Regions from separate parts of the Homo sapiens genome. Here regions 2, 3 and 4 are each reported to be linked to region 1. Evidence: microRNA targets listed by miRTarBase, many of them from high-throughput screens and not tested one by one. Region 1 holds a microRNA gene; each other region holds the end of a gene's coding sequence.

Evidence for each region. The annotated mature microRNA hsa-miR-520d-5p reads CUACAAAGGGAAGCCCUUUC and lies in region 1 at 863-882, opposite strand. An mRNA with a match to its seed (bases 2 to 7 or 8) in the 3' UTR can be bound and repressed. Matches are read on the target gene's strand: a 7mer-m8 pairs with bases 2 to 8, a 7mer-A1 pairs with bases 2 to 7 and ends in A, and an 8mer does both.
Region 2: the mRNA of FAM8A1 is a reported target of hsa-miR-520d-5p. Seed matches in the 3' UTR shown: 7mer-A1 at 2,358-2,364.
Region 3: miRTarBase lists NPM1 as a target of hsa-miR-520d-5p. The part of its 3' UTR that is shown has no 7-base or 8-base seed match.
Region 4: the mRNA of MRPL35 is a reported target of hsa-miR-520d-5p. Seed matches in the 3' UTR shown: 8mer at 897-904, 7mer-m8 at 1,074-1,080 and 7mer-A1 at 1,504-1,510.

Annotation. Positions count from the first base shown.
Region 1 is chr19:53,717,809-53,720,992 of GRCh38, reverse strand. It overlaps MIR520D (microRNA 520d), which reads right to left and starts at 897; the gene lies at 811-897. It also overlaps the pseudogene RNU6-803P.
Region 2 is chr6:17,607,906-17,611,089 of GRCh38, reverse strand. It overlaps FAM8A1 (family with sequence similarity 8 member A1), which reads right to left. Exons shown (of 5, transcript NM_016255.3): 5 at 1-2,895. The coding sequence ends at 2,751. Among named protein-coding and RNA genes, the nearest start is that of FAM8A1, 9.2 kb to the right of the region's middle. RefSeq lists a silencer at 266-466.
Region 3 is chr5:171,410,192-171,413,375 of GRCh38, forward strand. NPM1 (nucleophosmin 1) reads left to right here. Exons shown (of 11, transcript NM_002520.7): 11 at 336-709. The coding sequence ends at 374. Among named protein-coding and RNA genes, the nearest start is that of FGF18, 7.9 kb to the right of the region's middle.
Region 4 is chr2:86,210,348-86,213,531 of GRCh38, forward strand. It overlaps MRPL35 (mitochondrial ribosomal protein L35), which reads left to right. Exons shown (of 4, transcript NM_016622.4): 4 at 133-3,184. The coding sequence ends at 321. Among named protein-coding and RNA genes, the nearest start is that of MRPL35, 12 kb to the left of the region's middle.

The DNA of each region.
Region 1 (3,184 bases):
TTGCCGAGGCTAGAGTGCAATGGCACGATCTCGGCTCACTGCAAGCTCCGCCTCCTGGGTTCAAGCCATTCTCAAGCCTTAGCCTCCCGGGTAGCTGGGACTACAGGCACCCACCACCACGCCTCGCTAATTTTTTGTATTTTTAAATAGAGATGGGGTTTCACCGTGTTAGCCAGGATGGTCTCGATCTCCTGACCTCGTGATCCACCCGCCTCGGCCTTTCAAAGTGGTGGGATTACAGGCGTGAGCCACAGCGCCCAGCTTTTTTTTTTTTTTTTTTTTTTCAGACGGAATCTCACTCTGTCATCCTGGCTGGATGCTGTGGCACAATCTCGGCTCACTGCAGCCTCTGCCTCCCGGGTTCAAGCAATTCTCCTGCCTCAGCCTCCTAAGTAGCTGGGATTACAGGTGCCCACCACCACACTGGGCTAATTTTTGTTGTTATTGTATTTTTAGTAGAGACGGATTTTCACCACGTTGGTCAGACTGGTCTCAAACTCCTGACCTGAGATGATCTACCTGCATCGGCCTCCCAAAGTGCTGGGATTACAGGCATGAGCCACCATGCCCGGCTTTATTTTGTATTTTTATTCATTTGTTTATTTTTTGAGACAGAATTTCCCTGTGTTGCCCAGGCTGACCATTTGAAGCCAAGAGATATATTGGACATGTCACTGCACTCCAGCATGAGCAACACAGAGCCTTAGAATAAAAAAGCAAAACCAAAACAGAACCCCACCATCGTCCAAGTGTGATAAGCATGCTCTGCAAATGTATTACCGAAATCAGCATCAACTTCAACGTTGCTTTTCTCAAACCGTAACCCACCAAAGAGAAGCACTTTCTTTTCTTTTAGACAACAGAAAGGGCTTCCCTTTGTAGACTCACAGCTTGAGATCTTCTTGCTCCGGCACTCTGGGTTTCTTGTTGAAATTTTCCTTGACCTGGTCAAAATGGACACAAAAATAAAGATGCATTTATTGGTCCTGTTTGCATATTTTCTGGAATCTAGAACATAAACCGATACAAAGACCATCTCCAGTTCCTTGCTTCAAACGTTCAGCAGGTTAGCCTTGTTCATCGAGGGACAACTGTCCTGGGTTTTGTCTTCAAAGAGAAAAAGCAACGCCTACTACATATACCTTATATTCTCAGGAGTTAGACACCAGCCTGGGAAACATGGTAAAACCTCATCTGTAAAAATACAAAAGTTAGCCAGGTATAGAGGTGCATGCCTGTAGACACTAATTCAGGAGGCTGAGGTGGGAGGTTGAGGTTGCCGGGAGCCGAGATCACACCACTGCACTCCAGCATAGGTGACAGGGCCAGATCTTGTCTCAAAAACAAACGAACGAACAAACAAAAAATGCACACACCAACAAAAAAATGCCCAAAGTGATATAAGAGTATTCTCAGGGTGTAAAAGAGTCTTTTGTGTGTACATGATATTATATATATAAGAATATATGAAGGCCAGCCGCGGTGGCTGTCTGCAATCCCAGTACTTTGGAAAGCCAAGGTGGGCAGATCACCTGAAGTCGGGAGTTTGAGACCAGCCTGACCAACATGGAGAAATCCCGTCTACTAAAATACAACAAATTAGCTAGCCCTGGAAGTGTATGCCTGTAATCCCAGCTACTCAGGAGGCTGAGGTAGGAGAGTCGCTTTAACCCAAGAGGTGGACATCGCAGGGAGCCCAGATCACACCATTGCACTTCAGCCTATGCGACAAGAGCAAAACTCAGTCGCAAAAACATAAAAAATAATAATAATAAAAGAAACTTCCATATATTGTATGCTCACAGGAAGAATACTTCCTACACACAAGTGCTAGCTTTGGCAGCACGCATGAAAAAATTGGAATGACAAAGATTACCATGGGCCCTGCGCAAAGGTGACACTCAAATTCATGATGATCTCATATTTATCTATTTTTATTTTTTAACGTTTAATGTTTATTTAATAGTTTTATTTATTTATTTAGAGACAGAGTTTCACTCGTTGCCCAGGCTGGAATACAATGGCACAATCTCGGCTCACCACAACCTCCGCCCCCTGGGGTTCAAGTGATTCTCTTGCCTCAACCTCCCGAGCAGCTGGGATTACAGGCATGCGCCACCATGCCCGGCTAATTTTGTATTTTTAGTAGAGATGGGGTTTCTACGTGTTGGTTAGGCTGGTCTTGAACTCCCGACCTCAGGTGATCCGCCACCTCGGCCTCCCAAAGTTCTGGGATTACAGGCATGAGTCACTGTGCTCGGCCTATTTATTTAATTTTTGAAACAGAATCTCACTCTGTCACCCAGGATGGAGTACAATGGTGTGATTTCGTCTCACTGCAATCTCCTTTTCCCAGGTTCAAGAGATTCTCTTGCCGTGGCCTCCCAAGTAGCTGAGATTACAGGTGTCCACCACTGTTCCCAGCCATTTTTCCTAATTTTAGTATAGACGAGGTTTTGCCTTGTTTGCCCAGCTAGTCTTGGACTCCTGACCTGAGGAGATCCGCCTGTCCTGGCCTCTCAAAGTGCTGGGATTACAGGAGTGGACCACCGTGTCTGGCCTATTTTTTATGTTTTTGAGATGGAGTCTCACTCTTTTTGCCGAGGCTTGAGTGCAGTGGCGTGATCTCAGCTCATTGAAAGATCAGCCTTCCAGCTTCAAGCGACTCTCCTGCCTCAGCCTCCAGAGTAGCTGGGATTACAAGCATATACCACCACCATGCTGGGCTAATTTTGTATTTTTAGTAGAGATGGGGCTGCACCATGTTGGCCAGGCTGGAATCAAATTCCCGACCTCAGGTGATCCTCCTGTCTCAGCCTCCCAAAGTGCTGGAATTACAGGCGTGGGCCACTGTACTCTGCCTGGTGCCATTATTAAAACTAGGAAAAAAGAAAGATGCCCACACCTAAACAGCAAATCATTTGTTGTTCAAGTATGTCTCAAATGCAGTCTTCATCTAAAATACTAATTTGACTGGCGGCTAGGTGTGAACCAAAGAACGGTCCTTTCTTTCCTCTTGCCTGTGCATGGTTAATATTCACATGTAGTCCCAGCTACTAAGGACTGGGGAGAGGTGGAGGCAAAAGGACCTAAGCCCATTTTAGCCTGGGCAGCATAGTGAGACCCCTGTCTCGTTGCACATATGACCTGGTCGTGCAGCCAAGAGTTCAGCTGCATTTACCCA
Region 2 (3,184 bases), not on the chromosome of region 1:
CCAGTGGGAGCAAAGTTCAGTTGGGCAATACTCTTTATGATACTGACAAGTGAAGGCTTATTAGTTCCAAAAGTGCTGGCTTTATTTCTGTAGTCACAGAGTAGTCTAAAGGTAAGGCTTACCCAGCTCTTGGCTCCCAAGTTAATGTTATTTATTCAGTATGCCAGATTTTTCTCAAGGTGCATTAGCTACTCAGGATAATTTTACTGGTGGGAACTGAGATTTTCTAGACGCCTAAATTAACTGCCAATTCTGGTTTATCTTAGGGACATGCTCATTGAAACAGTATTCTCACTCAGCTTGAATACTAAATTTTGTTCCCTTATTGTTAAAGTGATGAATATGTTTGTACAATGAAGACAACTTTCTTTTGGCTTTTTAGGCTACAGCTTCAGCATGAGAATTATACTTTGACACAGAAAATCAGGTCTATAAGTGAAATATAATAAAGTGTTCTGGAAAGCAGGAGACTACCTTACAACCCCAAGAGAAAAATATGTGGCACTAAGGTCTGGTTCCTTCTTCCCTCGTTGTTTTGTCATTTTTTTCCAAACTTTGGGAATCAAAATCTCGGTGCAAATACTGAATTCATAAATTGAAACAGACTCTTGGGTTCTATTATGAAGGCAAATAATACTTCTATGTATTTTGTAGGGTTATACAGTATAATACCTCGAATCCATGGTTGGATCTGACTGAACCTACATAGATACTAATCTGAATAACTCATATATAGAAAATGTGCAATATTCTAAGTACAAAAAATTAAACTGGACTAGTTTGCTTTTGTTTTATAGTATAAATGAAAATAATCTCGATGGCAAACTATTCAATTATCTGAGCAGAAATTATGAATGAAAGATGTATTCCAGACCTATATGATTGAGGGACATTTCAACTTGAATTCCCCAGCGGCAAAAGTGGTGTATAAACTAATGCTAGTGTATACACTACTAAAGTGCCAAGTTACGTAACATCTCCTAATTTTAAAAATGAAAGATTTTTCTTTTTTTCACTGTGAAGGGCAGTAACACAATCTTCCCCATGGGTGCAACTGAATGATTTATTTAGTACATTGATGTACTTAATTATTAGTGTTTCTGGGAAGCTGGATTTGACATAAACTTATTTTGAAAAACACGGTTTATGAAATTTTGTACTAAAATTATTAATAGACATTAAGTTTCTATAATCAAATGTGAATATCTGTTGTCACAGTTTTAAACGTCAAAGAAAAACCTTTGAAAATTAATATAGTGATAATAGATATGTGCTGTGTTTGCTGTTAAATTTAAGACCAAGAACACCACCTAGATTGATCCCTTAAGTAATCAAATTTTGAACTGTGCAATGCAGTTTAGTGTGTCTTTGGAAAACAATGTCAGAGCTGGAGAAAATACCTAAGAATCAAAACTTAAACCATAAATAGTACAGGTATATCTCAGCACAGCTAACTGGGACATCTAGGAAAAGCACACACACATAATAAAACCCCACAATTTTGCTTCAACAGAAGAATAAAGCAAAATGGCAACATACACAGTATCACTTTGCGTAACATTTCCCCCCAAACTTTAGCAGACCCAAAATGAGCTTAAAGACCCTAGAATGATGTCTGGGAATGCTAGTCTCTCTTGCTTTAGAGAGAATAGTCCATAATGGGAAAATTGCTAATATTTCGCAAGCTATTAATTAATAGTACTTAGAGTTAATCATGAAATATTAAGATTTTTTTAACTCCTTGATGTTTCAACAGTCATAGAACTATATAAAATATAAGGAAAGTAGTATGTGAATATGCTGTATATAAATAGAATTTACACTGAGAACACTGAGAAGCACTAATACTTTCTTCATGCTGCACACATACTGGGAATACTTTTACAGTAAATATGCAACTGTTTGATGGAGGTGATTTCTCCCCACATTTATAGTTTGATTCAGGGCACTGAAAACACTTGCACATAAATTATAAGTTCAATTTACAGTGAAAACTTACTCCCCCACCATTAACAGTAATCACTAACTTACCTTTTAAAAAAAAAAACCAATTAACATAGCAATATGACTTGATACTTTTTCATCATCATGAGAAACTTGCCCCTAAATACATGTTCAAGCATTAAGAATAGTTGTAAAGTTACATCATTACGAGAGGGAACTGCAGTATGGATTTGAAAACTTCAGGTAAGGGAACTGCTAGGCCTGCCTCACTTGTCCCTTTCTCTTGTAGCCAACTCACCACCTCCTGGGATGGGAGACAGTGGATTATCCAATTTGTGTTCTCATTCCCTCCTCTAAACACCAAAGACAATTTCCCCAGGAAGTGTAAACTAAAAGATGAGTTACATAGGTGTTTACAAAACACAACTGGACATTTTCCATTATTTTGGGATAAACCAAAATAAATTTTAAAGTTTCATTTGGAGATTTCAAAGCTGAAAATGCTTTCAGCAAATTCTTAGATCTTAAGAAAGTACCTTAGATCTTAAGAAAGTATATATTGTCCATTGTTTATAAAATCATTTGCCTTTTTGATCTAAAAATTTTAATACTTGAATTTAACAGGTTTTTCTTCTGGACAAGTTCTTTGGCATTCAAGTATAATCAATACTTTCAGAGTAGTCACCTGCATCACACTGGAGTGACTGCTTTAATTTCTAAATCATCAATTAGTGTAACCCAGGGATACTGATGGCCTTGATACATAATTTAGTCTTAGTGTGTGGAAATCAGGGTTTTGGGGGGCATCATCTGACCCCATTTCTTTTTACCACAATGGTTCCTGCTACAATGTCATAAGCTGTTCGATTATGCTGAAAAAACAGCAGTGTGATGAAAGCAGGGAAAAAAGAAGCAATTGAAAAATTCTTGATCAAAGCTCGGATAGTGGACCTAAAAAGTTAAAACAAAAATATCAGGTAAGTTACACATCAAACCACATATAGATTAATGGTATCCCATCAAGTTCAAAATAGACATTTAAAACACAATTGTACTTCTCTACAGAAGTCTACAGGGAAAAAGACATTCAAGGTATAGTTGAGAGAATTTTTACCTTTGATATATTTTCAAGTAGCACTGTATCATGATCAAACCACCTGGGCTATTTCTAATAAGACTTCAACAACATAAAAAGCAGTAATAAACATGTCTCAGAATATTGAATTAATGGTTTACAGAG
Region 3 (3,184 bases), not on the chromosome of region 1:
AATCTGGCCAACTCTAAAGCTGATCTCGGGAGATGAAGTTGGAAGTAACATTGGCCATATGGGTCTCTGTTCTTTCTGTTGATTTCCTTAAGTAAATAATGCTAAACTATTAAATAATTATTAGTATATTGTTCACATTTTTATGACTGATTAAAGTGTTTGGAATTAAATTACATCTGAGTATAAATTTTCTTGGAGTCATATCTTTATCTAGAGTTAACTCTCTGGTGGTAGAATGAAAAATAGATGTTGAACTATGCAAAGAGACATTTAATTTATTGATGTCTATGAAGTGTTGTGGTTCCTTAACCACATTTCTTTTTTTTTTTTTCCAGGCTATTCAAGATCTCTGGCAGTGGAGGAAGTCTCTTTAAGAAAATAGTTTAAACAATTTGTTAAAAAATTTTCCGTCTTATTTCATTTCTGTAACAGTTGATATCTGGCTGTCCTTTTTATAATGCAGAGTGAGAACTTTCCCTACCGTGTTTGATAAATGTTGTCCAGGTTCTATTGCCAAGAATGTGTTGTCCAAAATGCCTGTTTAGTTTTTAAAGATGGAACTCCACCCTTTGCTTGGTTTTAAGTATGTATGGAATGTTATGATAGGACATAGTAGTAGCGGTGGTCAGACATGGAAATGGTGGGGAGACAAAAATATACATGTGAAATAAAACTCAGTATTTTAATAAAGTAGCACGGTTTCTATTGACTTATTTAACTGCTTTATACTTTGTCAAAGAAATAATTAATGTAGTTAGGAATGGCAAATAGTCTTGTAAAATTCTATGAGAATGTCCCTGCCCTCCCCTTCAATATTCTCTCTGGAGCTAACCACTTTTTCATCATAAGGATTTAGTGCTGTGTTCCCACCTCCTGATGATAGTTAACAATTATTATAACTATGCAACATGTTTCCAAATGTTCCATTAGACCTCCTATCTGCCTATTCTAGCCTCACTTGCAAAGAAAATGTGGCATGTTAAAACAGCTTAAAAGCAGCCTTTCAACCTGTATGGTTTTTTCCCCTAGGCTGGAGTGCAGTGGCACAATCTCAGCTTATTGCAGCTTCTGCTTCTTGGGTTCAAGCAGGTCTCCTGCCTCAGCCTCCCAAGTAGCTGGGATTACAGGTGTGAGCCACCAGCCCGGCTAATTTTTGTATTTTTAGTAGAGATGGGGTTTCACCTTGTTGGCCAGGCTGGTCTCGAACTCCTGAGCTCAAGTGATCTGCCCACCTCGGCTTCCTAAAGTGCTAGGATTATAGGTGTGAGCAACTGCACCTGACCTCAACCTGGATTCCTTATCTGAATCAAAGCAATTATTTCAGTGACTATTTGCTCAAGTTGCCTAGTACTTCTTACAGATGTATAGGAGAAAATTTATCACGTAGATAATGAGGATATTCAGAGACTAATTAGCACCTTTATATGTTCTGCCTTAAGCTGATTACATGATCTGAGTCAGATATACTGATTTGATTTCTATTGTTTTGTTGTGCTTTATACTCCAGTAGTTTGAGTAGGTGAGGGAATGTTCTCCAGTTCTGTGCCGTTTTCCTTGGGAGATTTTCATCTCCCACTTCTATCCATTCTTAGTCTGGTTTGATTGTCTTGGATGGTTTTTCTCATTCCTTTTTGTTTAAACTTGGGAAAGAGACTTTGATTTTGTCTTTAAATTTTTGTGTTGATTTTAATATACCAACTGCTTGCTGCTTTGGGCGTGTATCTGAAATCTAAAAAACATTACTCAACATTTTATTTATTCCAACATTTTGAAGTGATCGTGAATTTTTTTTCTTTCTTGTTTTGAGACCTATTCTCGTCTGTCACCTAGGCTGGAGTGCAGTGGTGCGATCTGAGCTCACTGCAGTCTCCTGTCTCAGCCTCCAAAATAGTTGGGATTACAAGTGTGTGCCACCACACCTGGCTAAGTTTGTATATACATATAAAAATAAATAAATATATAAATATATAGTATATAGATATACTAAAATATACATATATTTTAGTATAGATGGTTTCGCCATGTTGGCCAGTCTCGAACTCTTGACCTCAAGTGATCTGCCCGCCTCAGCCTCCCAAAGTGCTGGCATTAGGCGTGAGCCAGTGTGCCCAGACAGGTTTTCATCCTATGTGTTTTTGCCTTTAACTTTCTAGTAGCCTGTTTCATTTAGCAGGTTGGCATTTGTTAACTAGGCTGATAGTTGTATTTTGAATCGGATCTGTAGATGTTAACCCTTCTCACTTCTAGGATAGTTCTCCACTTTGGAGAGTGGAGAAAAGTTTGGGTACAGTACTATCTTGTCTCATAACCAGTTTCTGGGTGTCATATATGTGTTCTAATTGTTTACTGTGGGTTGTGGTTTCCTTCATTAATTCAGTATCCTCTATCCTCTATCCATATCTGTCCATGTTTTTCTATACCTTTATTTTAATGAAGACTCAAGAGAGGATGGTATGTTGATTGCCTCACTGGAAAGTACTTTTTTTTTTTTTTTTTTGGTGCCACCATGCCCAACTAACTTTTTTGTCAAGACGGTGGTTTTGCCATGTTGCCCAGACTGGTCTTGGACTCTTGGGCTCAAGTGATCTCCCACCTCAGCTTCCTAAAGTGCTAGGATTACAGGTGTGAGCCATCACATCTGGCTGGAAATGATATTAATGTGATTTTTTTTTTGGCCAATTTTTAGAGTGATGGATTGATACCTAGCAGCCTGTGAAAAGGAATCAGTGAATTTATCCTTAATTCAGATTTTCATGTATTTGTATGTATATCAACCCACTGTGTTTTTTTGGTGCTGATATTTTCTTTTTGACCAAGGGAATCCCCTTCAAGCTTGCTCCTACCATAGCAGGTCTCAATAATCTGATCACTCTTCGATTTCTTGTGTGACGGGGTGTTTCATCTTGCTCATTTTCTTCCTCAGACCTGGAGGGGCCATTTCCCCCAAAGAACCTTGGCTCCCTTAGAAATAATGGTATTTGTAGACCACTGTCTGGGTGGGAACATTGCTTGTTAATACTGGGTTCTAGGTTAGCCAGTTGATTAGATCAGACCAGACCCTTTGGAAAAACAAGGGAATGAACAATTCTAAGTGCTGAGGAGGGCATCCATGCACAGGTTGGCTGACAAGCTTTTCATAAGTCAACAGTCAATGTAACTACAGAGCTGCCCTCAGTTTCAACCA
Region 4 (3,184 bases), not on the chromosome of region 1:
TTCCAAGAAATAGTCCAGCCCCTATGGAAGTCTGGTTTTTGTTCTTATTGGGTCTATAAACCTTGAGTTGTGAAGATACCTGTTGTTTCATACATAGTATGATGTTTTACATTTCTTTGTAATATCTGACAGGCTGGCTATAAGAAAAAATTATGGAAAAAGACACCTGCAAGGAAGAAGCGATTGAGGGAATTTGTATTCTGCAATAAAACCCAGAGTAAACTCTTAGATAAAATGACGACGTCCTTCTGGAAGAGGCGAAACTGGTACGTTGATGATCCTTATCAGAAGTATCATGATCGAACAAACCTGAAAGTATAGATCAGAAGTTTCACTTGTTTCTCAGTTATTGGATATGTATCTTTGTGTACATATCTTTGCAAAAATGGATAAGTACAAAACTTGATGTAAATTGTACCAATGAATACGTAAACATACAGTGACAACATTAAACTTAGAAAAGTTTTAAAACTTAATGGATCAGACTTTGCCAGATTTGGTTAGGGAAACAGAAATTTAGAATGGTGCATTATTTTTAACAAATGGTATTGGCTTAACTAGTTGTTTCAGTTATGCTCTTTTAGTTGCAAGGAATCTCAAGTGGGACAAACATAAAAAGACTCAAAAGCTACAAGTTAGCTCAAGCAATGTGACATTATTTCAAGGATATGTGCCAGGGAATTCAGGAACCACCTCACCAACCCCATCTCCCACTCAGAAATCACCTCCCAGCCTCAGGAAGAGTAGAAATTGGGTGGTGCTCCTCAGCAGGGGAAGGTGGATGTTTAGGCTTGGGCTCTGCATGCATGTGACTTGCTTCTTTTTGCATTGTTAACTCCATTCTCTCTATTCACCAACTTCTCTACACAGCTTTTGCATACTTACAGTTTCTGTTCCTTTGTAATAACTTTAACTTGCACCTTTGAGGTTCTTTTCTACATGATGACCTTCAGCTCCTGCTGCTAGTCTCCAATTGCCAAGGGAATTTAACTGGGCCAGACTACCTTTTTATACTAGGTCTGGTTGGGTCATTGTCTAGAGTAGGGATTGGCTGTCCTTAAGTCAGGAGCCCGCTTTGTATTAGCAGGTTTGCATGCAGCAAAAAAACAGTTATGTGAGCAGTTTCACTTGGAGGTTCACATGGGGTGGCAGCACACTTAACATCTAACACACCAGGTTCATTGTGTTCATAACACTTGTCATTTACTGTAACAACATTTTTTCATAGGAGAGTAAATAGCCCTTCAGCATGCTCATTCATGAAACAGAAGAGGCTGTACAAGTGAAGACAAGGGCTTTTTATGCAAGTTTTGAAAGATAGGTATTTATTTTTTCTAGAGACAGGAGTTTTGCTCTGTTGCCCAGGCTGGAGTGCAGTGGTGCAATCATAGCTCATTGAAGCCTCGCACTCCTGGGCTCAAGTGGTCCTCCTGCCTCAGCTTACTGAGTAAGGATATGTATTTCTTAAAAGTTAGTTTATCCACTTCAGATTTCATGTTTTCATTTGTAAGGATAAACTTTTCCCACAAATTTTCAACAATCATTGTAGAAACTAAGGGGGAGAAAGTAATCTCAGTTGTTTTAGAAACGAAAAAGTTAAGCATTGTTTACTTGAAGTGGGCAGGGAAGCAGCACTGAGTAAAGTTCAATTGAGTGGTTACAGTCTAGGGCAGTGGTTCCCAACTCTCCGATCAGAATCATCTGGGAAGCATTTTCAAACAGCAAAGTACTTTGAAAACCATTATTAAATAGAATTATGCATGAATTACTGTTTCAGATCCTTTAATGTGGTAGTTGGTAATAATAAGATGAAATTCCTCTGTTGTTAGTAAAATTATGAAATTGAAGTTCTGCAGCATGTCAGGCCAGGATTATTAGGGAGATTCCTCGAAACTAGTGTGTGTTTATTAAAAGGAGAAAGGATAACAATAGAATGTTCTAAAACCAGAAGTCCAAGTGCGTGTCTACTTATGGGACCAATAAATAAAGAACAGACATTTGATTTGAGGTGAGGTAAAAGCCTGAAACATGGAATGGCATTCTGTTTTGATGGATTTTCATTTCTTCGCACTTCTGAGACGGCAAAGCCAACCACTTAGAAGCCTTCCACATCTTTGTCACCTGCCTGGCTCCTGCTCTCTGATGTACCTCTGGGTAGTGAGATGGAAATGGTGCCTGCAGAAGTTGGGGAGAAGGATACTTTTGCACAGCCTCCATGATGTCTTTATTGCAAATATGGATGACAAGGGTCTCTGTTACAGGGGCCTCAGAGCACCTTCGTTTCTCCTCTAGACCAGGGACAGGTGTAGAGATAAGGACTGGCAACCAGAGCCTCAGCATCCAAAGATGGACTGAAGTGGGATGGCTGACAGGCACATAACTTACGGGAAAGGGAATTTCATACATACGATTTTTGTTTTGTGGGTAGGAGGGCTTATCATCAACACTGATTTTATAATCTGACAATAAATGTCTTTCATTAAAGAGTTTACCTAAATGATGTTCGATTATATGTATAATTTATAAAATATTTATGTATAGTTTGTTTATTCAGGTATATGTATAATTTATTGAACACCTACTATGTCCCAGCATATCTACAAAACTGGGTACATACATACTGTCTAACTGCTAATCCACATTTCCAGTCTTACAAAGGACATAATGATTAGTTAAGCCCTAATTTAGATTTGAGGAAACTGAAGCTGAGAGAGGGTTAAGTAAATTACCCAAAGTACAGCTAATAAGACCCAGAATCTCAGTCTCACTCCTTGGGATCCTGTGTATTTCCCTGAGTCTTCTAACATATGAAAATTCATATCTAAATCAACAAGTGACTGTAATCTGGTACTATAAATACTAAATAAACACTTCTTCATAACACTGTACCAATTCAGCTTTTAAATTTTATTACTTTGCTTTCCTGTCCTTTGCCAACTCTTAACCTAGTTAATCCTAGTTCTGTTGACATTGGACCAGGCTCAGTAAATAAACGAATGGATTTCCAGCCTTTTTTTCCCATCTGTTCCTGCTTTTAGTCCTCTGAATCTGCTTCTTTTCTTACTGCTGCTTTATTTTACAGTGATTTTGTCAAACATAGAATACAGGACTAAAAATGCAAAGAAATTGGGTCTGTGTTTAATTTTGATGTTTCAAATTTTGAGCTTCCAAGTCTTTGTGGCCA